2 separate regions of the Homo sapiens genome follow, and region 2 is linked to region 1. The links come from fine-mapping of genetic effects on gene expression. Tissue or cell type: thyroid. Region 1 holds a variant in brackets; the other region holds the start of a gene. All regions are shown on one strand. Distances are between the middles of the regions.

Evidence for each region. PIP is the estimated chance that this variant, and not a neighbour inherited with it, causes the effect.
Region 2: KCNJ5-AS1 starts here. The variant in region 1 is fine-mapped to the expression of KCNJ5-AS1 in thyroid (GTEx, PIP above 0.99).

The regions. Positions count from the first base shown.
Region 1 is chr11:128,859,925-128,868,025 of GRCh38, reverse strand. It overlaps KCNJ1 (potassium inwardly rectifying channel subfamily J member 1), which reads left to right and starts at 730. Exons shown (of 3, transcript NM_153766.3): 1 at 730-853. LOC107984409 (a long non-coding RNA gene) reads right to left here. Exons shown (of 3, transcript XR_001748442.2): 2 at 4,016-4,129; 3 at 847-1,276. RefSeq lists a silencer at 7,858-8,101 and an enhancer at 8,053-8,101. The variant C/A (reference allele first, on the strand shown) is at 4,960.
Region 2 is chr11:128,902,638-128,910,738 of GRCh38, reverse strand. KCNJ5-AS1 (KCNJ5 antisense RNA 1) reads left to right here and starts at 4,508. Exons shown (of 4, transcript NR_045767.1): 1 at 4,508-4,590; 2 at 6,128-6,308; 3 at 7,228-7,372; 4 at 8,026-8,101. All of the region lies in intron 1 of KCNJ5 (potassium inwardly rectifying channel subfamily J member 5), which reads right to left. RefSeq lists a silencer at 5,574-5,643.

The sequences.
Region 1 (8,101 bases):
TAGAATAGAATAGAATATTATTTCCTTCTATAATAGAATAGAATATTTCATTATTTCATCCCATATTCATTATTTCATTCTATAATATTATAGAATAGAATAGAATATTATATAATGTAATAGAATATTATTTCATTATATATTAGAATATAATATATAATGAAATAAGGAATATAATAGAATATAATAGAAGTAAAGTAATTATTATAAGTAAACACAGTAGAAACAAAGTTCACAATAAATGTCATGTGTTTGAATCATCTCGAAACCATCCTCCCCCACCACCTCCCTGGTCCATGGAAAAAATGTCTCCCATGAAACTGGTCCCTGGTGCCAAAAAGGTTGGGGACTGCTGTTCTAGGGCCACTGAGTGATTCACAGGACAGGAGACATTTGTGAGGGGCTCCTTGGGGACCCCTACTTCCCTGCCCTGTAACATCCAGCCTCATGTGCGCACGTGTTCAACTTCATGCCTTTGACTTAGACACATCGACATGAGCATACCGGCCTTCTGGTTCCAAGCCAGGGTTCCATAAACAAATCCTTCTTAGTTAGCCTTGGTAGCTCAACACCTTTGGTATCTCACTCACTTAACTGCCACGCCTACTCTTGTTGGATCCGGTTATAAAGTAAACTATGTTCTTTGAGAACTGTTGCATACAGATGAGTTGGCAGCCGGTCTGAGCTGGCCCACAGACTCATAAAATCAACAGGGCCTCGGGTACCCTCACCTAGCATATCCAAACTCTTGCATCAAAGGTGCAGGGACTTGCTCACATCGAGAATCTGGTTGCTTTCTTGGAGACCAAGAAAATGAGTTTTTGTTTCTACATTTACTCCAGCAATCCATGAGGTAAGAGGAGAAACACCTCATTGTCTCTTTGTAGGAAAAAGAAGTTAATTCTTGTGAAAATTTAGACCTCTTTTCCCCGCCTCAAATCTAGGCAGACTTGTCTGTCCACTCCTGGGGGATAGATAGAAGCATGGTTTTAACTCACTCACTGGATGCTTTTGGTGTGCTGGTTACATGTGGATTATTAGCTGTGTGCTGCATCTTGCCTTCCCTGGGTCACTCCGCAGCCCTGGGGCTGGAGGGCAGTAAGAATCTTTGGTTGCATCATGCCTGATTCCAAAGTCTTCTTTTGGTGGCAGAGATGTATGTAGGGTTTTCATCTCTGGTGGCATCCTTTCAATTGTAGCAAGACCTTGCCTAGTAACACAACCTCTGCCAAGCCGTTTCCATCTTTAAGGTAGAGGATCAAGGTGCTAGTGGGGTCTATTATGGAAAACATATATCAGGAAAAGGCAAGAGTTAGCCAGACATTTTGATTACCTTCACCCAAATGTCTTTCTTTCATTTTCTGATGTAGGACTTTATAGGAATTTTGCACCATTCTGAATGGATACATTTGGATTTCTCAACATTTGTTCAGCTTCCTAATGACTGTTGTGACAATTGCTCTATACCAGTGAATGCCAACTGTTTATCTCTGCTCTGAACAGGTATGGAGCCCCTTCTCCCAATATCTGTATCTTACAGATTTGGTGCATAGACGCTTAAAAGGAGTTGGTCTTTCGCAACCAGCAATCTTTAGGAAAAATGATTGAATTTTTCTCCTTTTAGCTGGGCTTACAAAATGGAGCAAAACATAGTGATTGTGCTATGGACCTTTTATGGACAGGGACTTGGCAGAGCCACTCACTGGATGCTTTTGATCTGCTGGTTGTACCTGGATTATTAGTTGCGAGCTGCACGCTGCCTTCCCTGGGCCATTCCGTAGCCCTGGGGCTGGAGGGCAGTTAGAATCTTTGGTTGAATCTTCGGTTACATTGGAGGAGCTGCCCAGTCTTTGTGGGCTCCCTTCAGTCATGGGCTTGGCTTGTGTTGTCTTACTCTACACTGTTTAGTGTAAATGGATTCTCACTAAGTCAGCTTCAGCTTTTAAGAGCATGATGGGGTGGAGATATCTGGGAACGTATGGGCCATCAGAAAAGCATTTTTTTATACTCAAGTCATGAAGGTGGATTTCTTCTGTGTAAGGAGGTGCACCAAGTCAGTGTAGGTGCAAGACTGCCCTTGTAAAGAAGCAGAGTATGTGAATTCCTTGTGAGTGGGTCTTAATCTTTAATGCTTTAATGACTTTTGGTTTGCCTGATTTTTTTTAATATAAGAAGTTTGTAATTGCCAAGCATGCTTTTCTGTGAAGAGCTAAGTCTCAAAATTCCCCATTCACGTTCTTTTCCTTTCCTCAGTAATGTGTTTTTCTGTGCTAGGTTATGAGTCTACCCTGCACCTTGTCACAGCTCAGTGATTGTCCAGGGATTCAGCTGTGACTCACATGCTTTGCCTTTTACTTGCTCCAGGGTTTCCATGCATTGAAGGCTTCCTGGTGCCCTCTCAGTGGAATTGCTTCTGGCCTGGCAGTTTGATCCTGAGGGTGACCCAAATGTTTCTCCCCTTGGCTCCATAATTTAAGATGCCAGTGATGACTATTGTCTTTCTTCTCTTCATTCTTGTCTTTCTCATGACTATTATTATTATACATACAGGTTTTTTTCTTCATTTGCCTTTCAACAAGCTTGTAATTAGAACTCATTGTGTTTTGGATGCTAGGTCCTGGGAAACCACTGAATGGCTTGGGAAATGCTTTGCTCTAGAGGGCAGGTACTTGGGCTAGGGGCTATGTGCATGGAAACAGGCTCTCACACGCTAATGGGAGAGATACCTGATGAGTGGGGACTGTGACACAGAAATGTAGCTCATAGTATCATCGCTGCCTGCACAGAAAAGTACATCATACTTTTCCTACAGAGGACCTCATGGAAGCATGATCCTAAATGCGCTGGGTGGGCAGGAAGGGGCCTACTGGAGGCAGGGGGAAGAACATTCTAGAACAAGGAAATGGCATTTACAAAAATATGCAAGAATGAGAGAGAGCATGACTTACACAGGGAATACCAGGCTGGTGTGGCTGAGGGTGGGTGGCCAGGGGAGGGGTGAGGGAAGCTGCAGGGTGCCACGATGAAGGACCTAGTATGTGATGCTGAGGAACTTGGGCAGTGTCCGGAAGGTGGTGAGAACCGGGGTAAGATCTTATTTACATTGTGGAAGAGTTGCTCTGCCTGCACAGTGCAAGGTGGACTAGAGTAGGGTAAGACCACGGCCGGGTAATCAGGGAGGAGATTACCAAGAGGGAGAAGACACAAAGTCTGGTGGCCAATCAGCTGCAGAGAGTGATGGGGACAGGCGAGGATGAAGTGGAGCTCTGAAACAGGAGCCAGAGACTCCCAAAGTCCGCAAAAAGAGCACACTTTGAATGGCACAGACCCTTTTCCTTCCACTCACCCTCCCACATTCAAGACTGTGATGACCTAGGCTCAAGCCAAAAGTATACAGAAAAGGGCCTAGGCTTTCCCAATCTGCTCTTTCTCCTGAAATATATATGGTTCAGGAATAGTATTAGTACTGCTGTGAAATAGCAAAAAGTGGTTGGCTCGATTATGTGGTTCAGAAATCATCATGAACAAGCAGGGTGTGCAGAAATTGGAAAAAGAAAACAACAAAAACAAACATCTTCAAAAAATGCTGAAGAAAAAAATTAGTGTAGAGACATATAAAAGATAGACCCCTAGAAAAGTCAACAATAGGCCTGGTGCAGTGGCTTACACCTGTAATCCCAGCACTTTTGGTGGCTGAGGCTCATCTGAGGTCAAGATTTCAAGACCAGCCTGGCCAACATGGAAAAACCTCATCTGTCTAAAAATTTGAAAATTAGCCAGGCATGGTGGCACACACCTGTAGTCCCAGCTTCTCAGGGGGCTGAGGCATGAGAATTGCTTGAACCCGGGAGGCGGAGGTTGCAGTGAGCTGAGATCGTGCCACTGCACTCCTCAAGCCTGGGTGATAGGGTGAGACTTTGTCTCAAAAAAAAAAAAAAAAAAAAAAAAAAAGAGAGAAAAAGAAAAAAGAAAAAGAAAAGTCAGTAATAAACCTTAAGGTCAAACCTTAAGTTACCTTAAGGTCAAAGGTTGTTCCTTCCTCCACGCAGGACGATTCTAAGCCATCCTTGCAGAAGATTGTGAAGGATGTGCAAAGTGTCAGCCTTTCTTGCCATTGCCTCGTCAGAATCTGTGAGCAAACGGAAAAAAGAACGATGCTCTTACACATGAAACTCCTGGATTCTTTTTAGAAAAATAGCAGAAAGAAACCAAAAATAGTGCAGAGAACAGGTCGCTTCAAAACTATTGAGGATCCAAAGATGTTCTGCCCTAAGGAGTTGCTTCTCAAAAACTGTTATTAAGGTCCTTAGCTGTCAAATATAAAACCCAACCCAAAAGCATTCCATTTAAAACCAGAGCATTGAAACACTAATTTTGAACAATCATTGTAAAGCCTCATCAAATCCAGCTCACTCATTGCAGAAATATGCAACTCAAAGGCCCTAGGAAAAATGTAAATCTGAATTTTCCCAGCACTGTTTTGGATGAATAATTTCCTCTCTCAGAAGAAGCCTGTTGTTACTTTTCAAAATTGGTTCCCCAGTATGCAACAGAGTCCATCTCTGCATGTGTGTATCTGCCCTGTGCTGTGTTCTGCCATTACCATGCTTTGTAAACTTTGCATTCTGGTTAGATGCGTGTGACTCACTGATGCTTCTAAGGGAAGATTCTTTTTGAATAATCCTTGAAATACAAGCCAGATTTTTCCATTTATTTAGAATTTCCCAATGTCCCTGCCCCTCCCTCTGCTCCAGTTGCACACACACCAGTGTTTCTTGGCTGGGATTCAGGAATTGTATTTATTGGGGTCTATCAGTGTGTCACCATATCCCCAGGGAACAGATTTAAATATGCAACCCAACACAATTGAAAGCAACAGGTTAATACTGTCTTTGCAGAGTTAAAACAGCCCAAGTTCTCTCAGGTGACTACCCGTAGGGGAAGTCTCATGGTTCGTTG[C/A]CCTTGATTAAATTCTCAGGAGCTTTCTGGCTTTATCCAGATCTACCATTTGTCCTTGAAGAGCTCAGCAGAACTCAGCAACTGTGAATAACTGTTGTGGGTCTTTTCACAGGAGAAGACTCTGTGAAGTGTGTGGCCCCTTGGAGTCCGAGTCCAGTGATGAGATATTCAGAGAGATAAGGGTAATCCCGGTCTCATGCTGGAAAGTGCATGTGACCATTTTGGGGATCAGGGTATTTGGATGCTGTTAAGGGAAGTGTTGGACTGCTGATGAATTATGCACAGAGTATGGGGAGCTTGAATCGGGTTCAGAGATAAGCCACAGGCATGGGCTAAGGTCACCTTAGACCTCTGGGAAGCCCCCGCTGTGCTGGCCTTAGTGAAGTGTGATGACACAGTCCCTATGCTGCAGAAGCTCTGGTCCCCGTGAGGGGATGAGTAGGGATGGCAGGTACAAGAGTGGCTGCATGACACATCAGCGAACTGGCAGAGCATGAGCACGTTCTAACCTACCAACCAGGCTCCCCGACCCAGTCTGCTTCTAGGGCAGCCCCGGGGGGGATGGAGGGGGCGGTAGGACACAGGGCTGTTTCCTCTCCCAATACTCCATCCCCTCAGAGGGAGTGGAGAAGGGGAGTCAGGAGACCCCCAGAGCGCTCCCCAGGACCAGGTCTGAGAGTCCTTTCCAACATGGGTCTCCTCACTCCTAGTCCTGCTTGAATCCATTGTGCATAAGAATTCACACCCAGCCTGGGCAATGCTCACCACTGAAGAGACAGGATGAGGTCTGCTGGGGACGGAGGCTGCCAGAGAGTGGAGAAAACCCCGTGCCGCACTCGGATTTTCTTCCCCTTATTACTGATACACCTGCTCCTTTGGCTGGGTGTTTCCCAGCCTGTGGAGTTTACAGATTTGGATTTCTACAAAGTTGCCCCTTAAGTATCTTGTGGCAGTGGGGAAAGGGGTGGAGAGACTGGGAGGATGGCACTGCAGCAAGATGAGCGGTGCGACCCAGGCACCCAGCGCACAGCAGGCAAATCCCTTCCCACGCGGATGACCACGGCCACTGGGACCTGAAGCTGGGAATAGGCAGCCACCGGAGAAGCGCGGCCGAGAGCTGGGGGCTGAAACTGCTTTCTCATCTATGAAGGGGCTGGTTTTCTCATCCTCACTGAAGGCCAGAGGAAATTAGACTTCAACCTCACCCGTTAGGATGTGGGTTGGAGATCAGGAAGAAGCTTGGGTTTTAGGGGTGTGGAGAGGCAGGAGTCCATTTCAGCGGGAAATGGACACAAACTTCTACAGACACGGAGCCTGCATCTATCTTTCTGGGAGGGGTTCCGGTGGCCGCTTACCGACAGGCAGGGCACGGGGCTGGTGTTTTTGGAAATCTTATCACAAGGCCCTCACTCCTGGGCTTGCACCAGGGAGGCGAGCCCCAGTTATCCCGCTCTGCAGTGGCTCCCAGGAGCAGGGGTATGTTTCTGACGACAGTCACCTCTGGCTATTGCTCTGATTCTGCCTTTCTTCAGGTTGCCTGGGTCTATCCCATAAATGAGCCTGTGATCACTGGGTACAAGCTCCCTTGCAGCTTCCTTTCTGTCTGAGGTCCCAGGGATACCCGCTAGCCCTGCTGCTCACATCTTGCCTCCTCACTCGGCATGTTTCTCTTTCTGTTCTAAATGTCCCAGCTCATGCCCCTCCATGGTACCATCCCCATTGACCCCAGCCCCACTAGGGCCCCCAATCCTGGGTCTCAGCTGCCAGTGAATGCTGCAGCCCTGCTTCAGTTGCTCAGTCAGCACCCCACGCAGAAAAGCGCCTCGGGCGGAAGCTGGCGGCACCAGAGTTTCTGTCTTTGCCTGCGTAGCCATGTGGGTTAGGGAGCCCCAGGGACGCCAACAGCCAGACCACAGGCGGGCTAATTTCCAAATGCTGACACAGTGAATGCCACCCATATTTCACCAGTGACTGGAGAGCAGATGCTGGGCATTCGTGGGCCCTGCTTGTGCCTGGGGATGGAGAGAAGGCAGGACACTTGAGGCAGATGCCAGTGCTGCCTCTGAGCTGTTGATGCTCCCTGCCCTGGAGTTCACAAAAATAATCCTCTACATGGTGCATAGAGTGTTTTTGTGTTTTTTGAAGTATTACAGGCAGGCCCCGGCGACATGATCTTCGTCTCCCAGATAGGGAAATTCTGAAAATCAGGAAAGGGGCTGGGCGTGCCCCTGTCACATAGCTGGTAATTGGAGCTGGGTCTCTGGCCTTCAGGGCACTTTCCTCTGTGGTCACACCTGGGTTTCAGAGCCACCTGGCCTCCACTTTTCTGAGCAGCTTCCTTCAGCATTTTCTTGTTTCCTCTGTGCTTGCATCCCGCCTGCCCCTTGGGGTCACCCTGTTTCCAGGCTATTGCGTCTCCAGGCCCCTTGGTCCAGCTGATGTGGGTTACAAGGCCCACCCGTGAGGTGGCAGTGGGCTAATTTTCAATAATCCAGTTGGTGACTGTTCTTCAGAGAGAATCTTCTGGAATCTCTGACTTAGTGACGGCACAGAGACTTCCTGAGTTCCTTAAGTCACGTCTTCCTTCCCTTAAGTCACTTCTTAAAAAAATCAATTCATTTCTACAAGAACTCATGTATGCATTTCACACAGTGAAACCTGTGCAGTGTCACGCACTTATATCAGACGGTCATTGCCTCTCTTTTACATTGTCAGTATGGAATTCTTCACGGGAAACCTGCCACAGTGTCCTGCCGGCCTGTCTAGTCAACAGTTCTTCATGTCTCACTGAAGTCCCTCTTGCCATAAATCCAAGTCATGTTTCTATAGTGTCGCTCATCCATCCGGATTCTCCCAAGCACTGCATCATTTAATCTGAACGATGGCCCTGGGAAGTAGATAGCATCATTGTCATCTGACAGATGAGAAATCCGAGGCCTGGCTCCTGCCCGGTCTGGGGCCAGACAGGTGTCCTTCCGGGCGCCCTTCTGAAATCAATGCCGACCTCTCTTGCGCAGTGCCCTCGGCAGGCGCCAGGGGGCGCTGCTGCTGCTGGTAAGCGGGAGGCCCGGCGGAGGCGAGTGTGGGCCTTGCCGCGCCTCCTCTCCCGCCTGCGCTTTGCTGCCCGCCGTCTGCAGCACCA
Region 2 (8,101 bases), 43 kb before region 1:
TTTGTTCTCTGGTATTCCAAGCACTTAGAACACAGCCCGGCACATGGATGTATTCAAAAAGTACTTACTGAGTAATTGGATGGATAAATAAAAAAACAGGCTTCCAAAGAGGTTAAGTGACACCCAGGCCACCAAATATCAGGCAGAGCTGATTTTTGGATTCCTGCTCATCTGGCCCAAGCCTGTGCTGTTTCTTTCATTCCTTGCTGTCTCTATTTATCTTGAGGTCTTTTAGCAGCAGACAGAAAGGAAAAGGCAGCATGTATCTGATTTGTCAATTGGTCACCCCTACCGTCTGAGTGTGAAGTCTGCAGCCATCTGAGTGCTTATTAAAATGACAAATTGCTGTGTAGGCCCGCCATTAGAAAATTTGATTCCCTGTCCTCTAAGAAATGGAACTGGACAGGATGTTAATGGCCCCAAAGCTCTTCAAAGGGCGTAATGTGTTTGTGGGGGTGCCTACCACACTTCCAAGAGATACCCACACACCTGCAATACAGGTGTCTGATAGTCCCCTCAAAACCCATTTAACGAGCTTTAAGACTCTCATTCAGTTGGGAAAGACCTCTTTAATTAACAATAACAGACAACATTTCTGAGCACTCAGAAGCCAGGAACTGCACTAGGAAATTTTTATCCATTGGCTGATTTAATCCTCACAACATGGTTAGATAAATACCATTATTATCCCCCCATTTTTCAGAAGAGAAGAATGAAGCTCACTTAGCATGTGACCAAGTGAGGTTTTGGGTCTAGGTTTATCTGGCTGCAGCCCAAAGGCTGACCCACAGCACTCACCACACAACGGCCAGCAGACACTGATGCTCCGGGGCTCATGCTAAGGCTGATGACCTGCTCCCTTCAGAAAGTTCTATGAGCTTCTGGCCCTGGGAAACATCACCTTAGGGATACTATCTTTCAACCCTTCTTCCTCTTTATAAGTAAGTCTTCCTTGAATTCGCAGTTACCCTCCCTCCCGGGTATAGGGTCCCCCAGGAACCCCCACTTACTTATCTGTCCTGATCGAGAAACACAGAATGCCTAGACTGCTCTGTCACTTGGCCAGCTGCATGTCTTTTCCTGCAGGCCTGAGCCCTGGAAACATTCCCTGGCACTGAAACCCTGTTTAGGTTGTTACCTGAAATACTGAAAGATTAAACATGTTGCTAAACATGTAGGAATTAGCCCAACCTTGGGCCAAATAACTCCATAACCCAGAGCCCTTGCCGCAGACATACTTAAGCGGAGCACCTCTTTTCTTGCTGTCTGTCATGAGGACCAGTGCAGCGCTCTACATGTAAGTTCCCCTAATAAGTGCTTTGGAACTTGGTGATTTCTTCTTTGGAATCTCAACTGACCCCATTTGGGGATGGTTTGGGCAGTCCCTTGCAGGAATTCCCCTGCCACCATTCTGAGGGTGACTCCAGCTGCAGGTTCCACCAGGCAGAACACCGGGAAGCTGTGTCCCCAGTAGAACAACCTGGAAAAAGGCCTGTCAACCACTGAGCTGACTGCCTAATGGCAAACCAAGGTAGATCCCAGCTGTCCTGGGGAGTCAGATGACCCTGGCAGGCCTTTTCCTGTGCTGCCTGGGTGATTATAGCAATTTCAAGATAACCTTTAAAACATCATATCAAAAGGTCATCTGAAGGGCTTTGTCCCAGATGTCCATTGGCCATTTCCCATTCTGCATAGGGCCACCTGCTTCCTGCTCCTTCATGTGGCAGTTAACAAGGATAAATGAGACAAGGAGGAAAATGCTTGGGGCTATCTTTGCAGAATCCCAAGCAGGAATTTGCTCTGCCTTAAGTGGGAGACTTCATCCTGAAAACTCAATCACAGATGCTCAGAGATGATGGAAAATGCTGCTGTCCCGAGGCCCCGTGTATTCTGGACACCCCAGCTGTTGGAACCAAGATAGGCTTCCAATGGGGGTGCCGCTGCGGACTCCCTGAGCCACTGAGGTTGGGCAGGGCAGGCACAGTGCCACAAGAATGAGTCATTGGCCGGGGCACATGGGAGCTCACATCCTCCTGTACTCAGCTCTTTGGGGAAACAGCTTGCTGCTGATTTTCTGCACTGTTTCCTTCTTTATTTTTAAACATACTTGCATACATTCTTGTAGGCGAAGGCTTTGTGCCGTACTAGAAACGGGAAAATGTTTTCTAGGAGACTTCAGCCCAGATAGGAAAACTTTTTGCGTCTGGCAGATAGGAAAGGGTGGTTTACTTTTGATTTGATATTGGGACGCATTCCTGTGCGCTGGAATCATCCGCAGAAGTCATCCCTTGCTCAACCCAGGGTAACATCTGGATTCTGACTCAGTGTCCAACAAACCAGCTTTGTGGTCCAAATACAAACAAACTTAACTTTCTTTGCCTCAGTTTACTCTGCTATAAATCCCAGATAATATCCTCTGCTCCTCCAGCCCTGGGAGCCAATTGTAGGGATTCATGGAAAGAATACATGATACAAACATAAGTATAAATAAAATAAACATACGTATTCATAATCTCTCCTCAAATTGAAATTTAATGCAATATCCCATTAACCCCATTTTAAAGATGAAGAAAGAGAGGTAGAGATTATCTAAGACAAATAGCTAAAGGCCCAGTGGGCAATTTGCAGGGCAAGCATTGAGCTGACCAGCATGCAGCCTCTACTGTTTAGATTTCTTTTAAGGGTAAGTAAAATCCCCATCCTTGAAACCCTGGCTTCCAGTGTTGTGTGCCTATCAAGTCAAAAGGATTTTCAGGGACAATGGAGATGAAATTCTTTAATCAGGTTTTCGAGATCCGTTCTATTAATTATGCACTCATTAAGCACACATTAATTGAGGAACTACTATAGCCAAACCCCTGTGCTAGGAGCTGGACATAAAGCAGTGAAGAAGATAAACGCAGAGCCAGCCCTCCCATAGTTGATATTCTAGCATTTCCTCTTTGAAGCTAGGGTTTTTGCAGAACTGTCTGTAGAGGACAGACAGGGAGGAATGCTGTGGCTGGCCTAGGTAAGCTGAGCATCCTAGCTACTCTCTGCAGGACGCAGGGAAAGGCACTGACTTGAGCAAATCCTATTAAGCCTCATCAAGCCTGATACTTCTCTTCTTCCATCCTCTCCTGTGTCTGTGAATGGGAAGCTGTGTTGAGACATGATGAAAGCTTTTGGAAAAGACAGAGCTTCAAGTCCAGCAAAGTGGTTTAATCCCTTTGATAGGAAAACACAAGTGGAGAAAGACTCAAAAGAGGCAAAATCAAAGGAAGTTGTATTTCAGATGATGCGTTAGTGAATGTGACATCCATTTAGATGGACCTCTGAATGAAGAATGTCAAACATCACGCACCCACAGGGAGGAAAACTTGGTGTCATGGCGTGGTCTAGAATGTCAGGAGTCAGGGCCCTAACAACTTGGTAAGAGCCTTGCTTGGGGGTCAGCAGGGCTTCCTGGAGAGACCACTGGCTTGGGAGTCTTTTCACAGACTCAGTCTCCCTATCTGTGATCACAAGCATCTTTATCAATTTCCTACTTTCTAAGATATGCTGGATCAAAATGTACCACTCTCTGAGCTTTGAAACACGGGATGAAGTTGGAGGAAGAGGAATGGAGGAGGGCGTGCTTATGTCTCATATGGAGATATTTGTATACTCTTCTGTGGGAATATATATGACTGTACTCATAGGAAAATGCTCCAAACTGGTTGGTGAACAGGCTGCCCCAGTCCCCTCAAGGCCCTTTAGGGTTAGCAGGAAGCATTCGAGGTGTTACACTTGAATGTAACACCAGAATACATGCTGGGGACAGAGAAGGCACTTGTAAGTAGGCAGAATTCCAACACACCCTCGTGATTCCTGCCCCCTGGTATACACCCCCTGAGGAACCCCAGGAAATCCTCACTCCCATGACTGGGGCATGTCATATGGCAGAGCTGAACTGAAGAAAGAAAGTTCATCTGGGGTGAGCTTGACCCAATCACAAGCCCTTTGAAGGGATTGGGCTTTTCCCGAAGTAAGAGATTCAAATTATTAGAGGAATTAGACAGAGGGGGCTTCTCCTTTGCTGGTTTTAAAGATGGAGGGGGCCACACGGCAAGGAATGTGGGTGACCTCTGGGAGCTGAGAGCAGCCCCCAGATGATAGCCAGCAAAAAAGTGAGGACCTCAGTCCTACAACCACAAAGACCTGAATTCTGCCAGAACCACAGGAGCTTGAAGGGGGCCCTGAGTTCCACATGAGAATGCTGGCCTCGCTGACACCCTGGTTTTGGCCTTGTGGGAACAGAGCAGAGGACACAGTCGCATCAAGCCTGGACTTCTGACCTACAGAACTGTGAGCTGATAAGTGGGTGCTGTTTCCAGCCACTATGTCTGTGGTCATCTGTTATGGCAGAAATAGAAAATCCAGTACAGAAAGGGAAGTCGGATCATAAACAGTTAGGAAGGCTGACTCTGGCATCAGATGACCTAGGTTCCTATTTTGCCTGGAGCTGAGGCACATTTGGAAAAGTTACTTCTCTAAGCTTCCGTTGCTTTATTTGCAAAATGGGGATAACAGTACTCACCAAAAAGAGCTGCTGCGAAGATGAAATGAAAGGTGTGTGTACAGTGCCTGGTTTACAGGAGCCCTCCTGAGAGGTAGCTCTTAGGATTTTCCACCAGGGGGCAGGGCTGGGAAAGGGGCTGGAGGGGTGGGGGTGAGGGGCAGGAGTGCTTCAAACGCCTTGAGGATAAGGAAGGAGAATCAGCAAGTCCCGAGTTCCTACGGTGTGTCAGCATCGTGCTCCCACTCCCGGGAGAGAGGCATTATCTTCAGTTTACAAAAGGGGAAAACAGGTGAGAGTTTAAAAACCTCGCCCGGAATCGCACGGCTAGTGCTGCAGGCTCCCCGGATTCCGCAGCAGCTGCTCTAGATGAGGGCATGCCTAGAGGCTCTGCTCCGCTGCAGCGTCTACGAGACCGGGAACCCGTGCCCCTTTCCTCCCCCCGCCCCGCCCCCCCAGAAGCCACGCCTGAGGAATTTTCTAAGACCTTTCCCTTTCGTCCCTCCCACGCCTAAGGTCCAGGTCCCAGGGCTTTCCCTTGCACCTTCATCCCTGGCCCTGCAGAGGCCTGCTTCTCGCTTCCGGGGTCGCCAGAGCGCCCCTCCCGCCACCCCGCCATCTCTTGGCCGGATCGTGCGAGAGAAGGGGAGGAGGTTGGGACGGGGGAGGGTGGCTGCGACAGGGGAGGGGAGCCTGGGAGAGGTGGGGAGGGAGGCTGGGACGGGGGAGCCCCAGCGCGGCAGGAACCGGGAGCCCTGAGCGCCACAACGTCTAGCGTGGCCTCGGAGGGTGACACAGGGGAGACCCCTCACCCCGCAGGGGACGAAGCCCCCAGTGCGGCTGGATAAGGCGGTGCTCGACGCCTGGGTGTGGCCCCCTGGCCAGCTGCAGCTCTGCGGCTGCGGAGGAGGCGGGGCTGGGGGATGCGGGGTGGGAGGGTGAGAGCCAGGAGGGGCCTGCGGAGGGGAGACAGAGGCCCTGTCCCCAGGGAACGGGCGTGGGGAGGCCGTTGGCAGTGCCGGGGACTCCCCGCCAGCGGGTCTCTCTTCCTGGAGGAAGGGCGGGCCAGCGGCCCCAGCCACCCAGAGACTGTGCCCAAGCCACACCGGTGGACAGGATCCTCCCAGGGGCCAGTCCTGGTTTCCCAGCTTTTCACAATTACCAACCTTAAAACAAAACAAAATTATCCTCTAGTGTACTCGGAGGTTTAATGGCACAGAGCCCGGTGGTAATAAATCTTTAAAAACCCGTCAGGTATTTCATTTAAAAACCGCACCATTTTGCAGCTATTTGTTCTATCAACTTAGGTCTGTGTCTATTTTTGAATTTCTGAACGTTTTACGGGTTTGCTTTTTGAGCCTGTTTGTTTCATAGCACATGATGGAGTAGGTGTGAAATCCCAGTGGAAGCTGACACAGGGCTTCACTCACTCAGTCAATTAGTCAGCGAACCCCCACTCAACACCCACTGGGTGTTTGAATTATGTTGAGCTCTGGGGATAGAAGGAGGTCGACTCACACTTCACTGGCATTCGTTCCTGTGCTTTCCCTTCCTGGGGATCTGGCTAAAATGCGGGTTCTGATTCTGTAGGTCTGGGGTTTCCAGAGTCCGCGGTTTTGCTAAGAAGCCGCAGTGATGTTGACGCGGCTGGTCCTCAGTGCACACCTGAGTAGCACGACCTCTCCGCCCTGGACGCACGCTGCCATCAGCTGGGAGCTGGACAACGTGCTGATGCCTAGTCCCAGAATCTGGCCCCAGGTGACTCCAACAGGTAATGAGATTGACGACCCTTGATGCGTTCTCTGTCCGCAAGGAGTTCCTGGTCTGGTGGGGAGTACACAGGCAAAAAAAATCAGTGCAGTAGAGAGTGAGAGAGAGGCCAGGGTGCAGTCCTGAATTTGGCTTGTCTGGGGTGGGCGAGGAAGAGTCAGGAAGGCCCTGGTGAGGAAGGCGTCCAGTGAGCAGGGTGAGGTGGCAGAGCCTTGTGGGCCTGAGAACAGGGGAGCAAACAGTAATAATAGCTCCAGCATGGAATCCCTGTTCTGTGCCATCTTTGTGCTGAGTGTTTTTCATGCATTGTATCATTTAATCCTGAAACAGATCTATTAAGTCCGTTTTAGTCGCCTCATTTTACAGGTCACAAAAGCAGAGTGATGTGGTAGCTTGCTTCAGGCCACACAGTTACTAAGCAGCGGGCTAGGTTTTGTCTGATTCCAAAGGCTCTAAGTGCAGCCACCGCTGCCTGGGAGGTTGGTTCCTCCTGAGCCCTCTGGGTGTGATGGGGTTGTTCTGAGTCCCGGGGGGAGCACCAGGGAAGGAACTCATGATTTCCTGCCATGTGGTCCGCTGTGCACAAGCTGCCCGGCAGCTCGGGTCACTTCCCGCCAGCCAGGGCTGTGTTCTCCCTCTCCCTCCTGCTCCCCTCCAGCATGCTCCCTACTCATCTAACAGCTGCTCCTCGGTGTTTCTAAGCACAATACTTGCCCCCAGAGGTCCCTGATTGCTCCCAGGAAATAAGATGTCCATGCATCCCAGGTAACACCTGTCATTCTGGCATCATCACCAAGAGTGCCCCGTCACTCTCTGAAGGTCTGCTTGGACAACGGCCCCCGCAGTAGAAACAAGACCACTAACTAGCAGCCACTGATTTCATTCTTAACACCCCTTCACTGGATTCTCCTTCATCTAAGGCAGGTCTGCCTCTGTCAGGAGTGAGGGTAACACCTCCTCACTCTGGAATTTCTCAGCTGGGCAGGATGTGCATGCCATAGTAACCAGAACCTGTGAGTCTGTGCTGAGCTCTGCCGTCTACACCCACGGCTGTGGCTGTGTGAGGTGAGTGCAGCTGCCGGATCGCGTTCTTCCAACACAGACACACTCTACATCCTTCTTGGTCACGTGCAATTAGTAGGCTTTCTCCTATTTTTATTTAAATGGGATGTCTTAGAGCTTCATTTTCATATTTTGATGTAGAGAAACATTTAAAATGTTGCATTCTCTTTATTTTAGGAAAAGCACATATACAAACCCATGATAAATGCAACCAAAACTTGCCCTGGGTTTGGGGGACATGGTAGGGGGTGGTGGGGACTGTGGTGAGCTGTACACACACGCAGTTCTAAAGCGGCAGCTGCTACTCGGCTCTAGTTCATTATTGCCTTGCCATGCCGTGGAGCCAGTACTGCAAGATCCTCCCTTTGCTTTTTCCAGAAAAGCCAGAAATTAAACTTTTGAAGATGAAATTTTTTTTCCATGTTGACCACTAATTCAACAATTTTTGAAAAAGTGAGCAAGCCATAGAGAATCTATGTGTGAGTCAGATTCAGTCTGTCAGCTGCCGGTTCGTATTTCTGGGCTAGGGAGTCGGAGAGAGGCCTTTTCTGCCCATGGACATGTTGGGCTGCGTTGTGAGTTAGGCTGAGAGTGCTGTTAAGAGTTGTGGTAGTGCCACTGAATTCCTCTCACAGCCTCCCTGTTTGCACCAACAGGTCTGCCACAAACATTACCTGTCAGTCCTCAGGACAACAAAGGCAGGCGGCCCGGCAGGAAGAGGAGAACTCAATC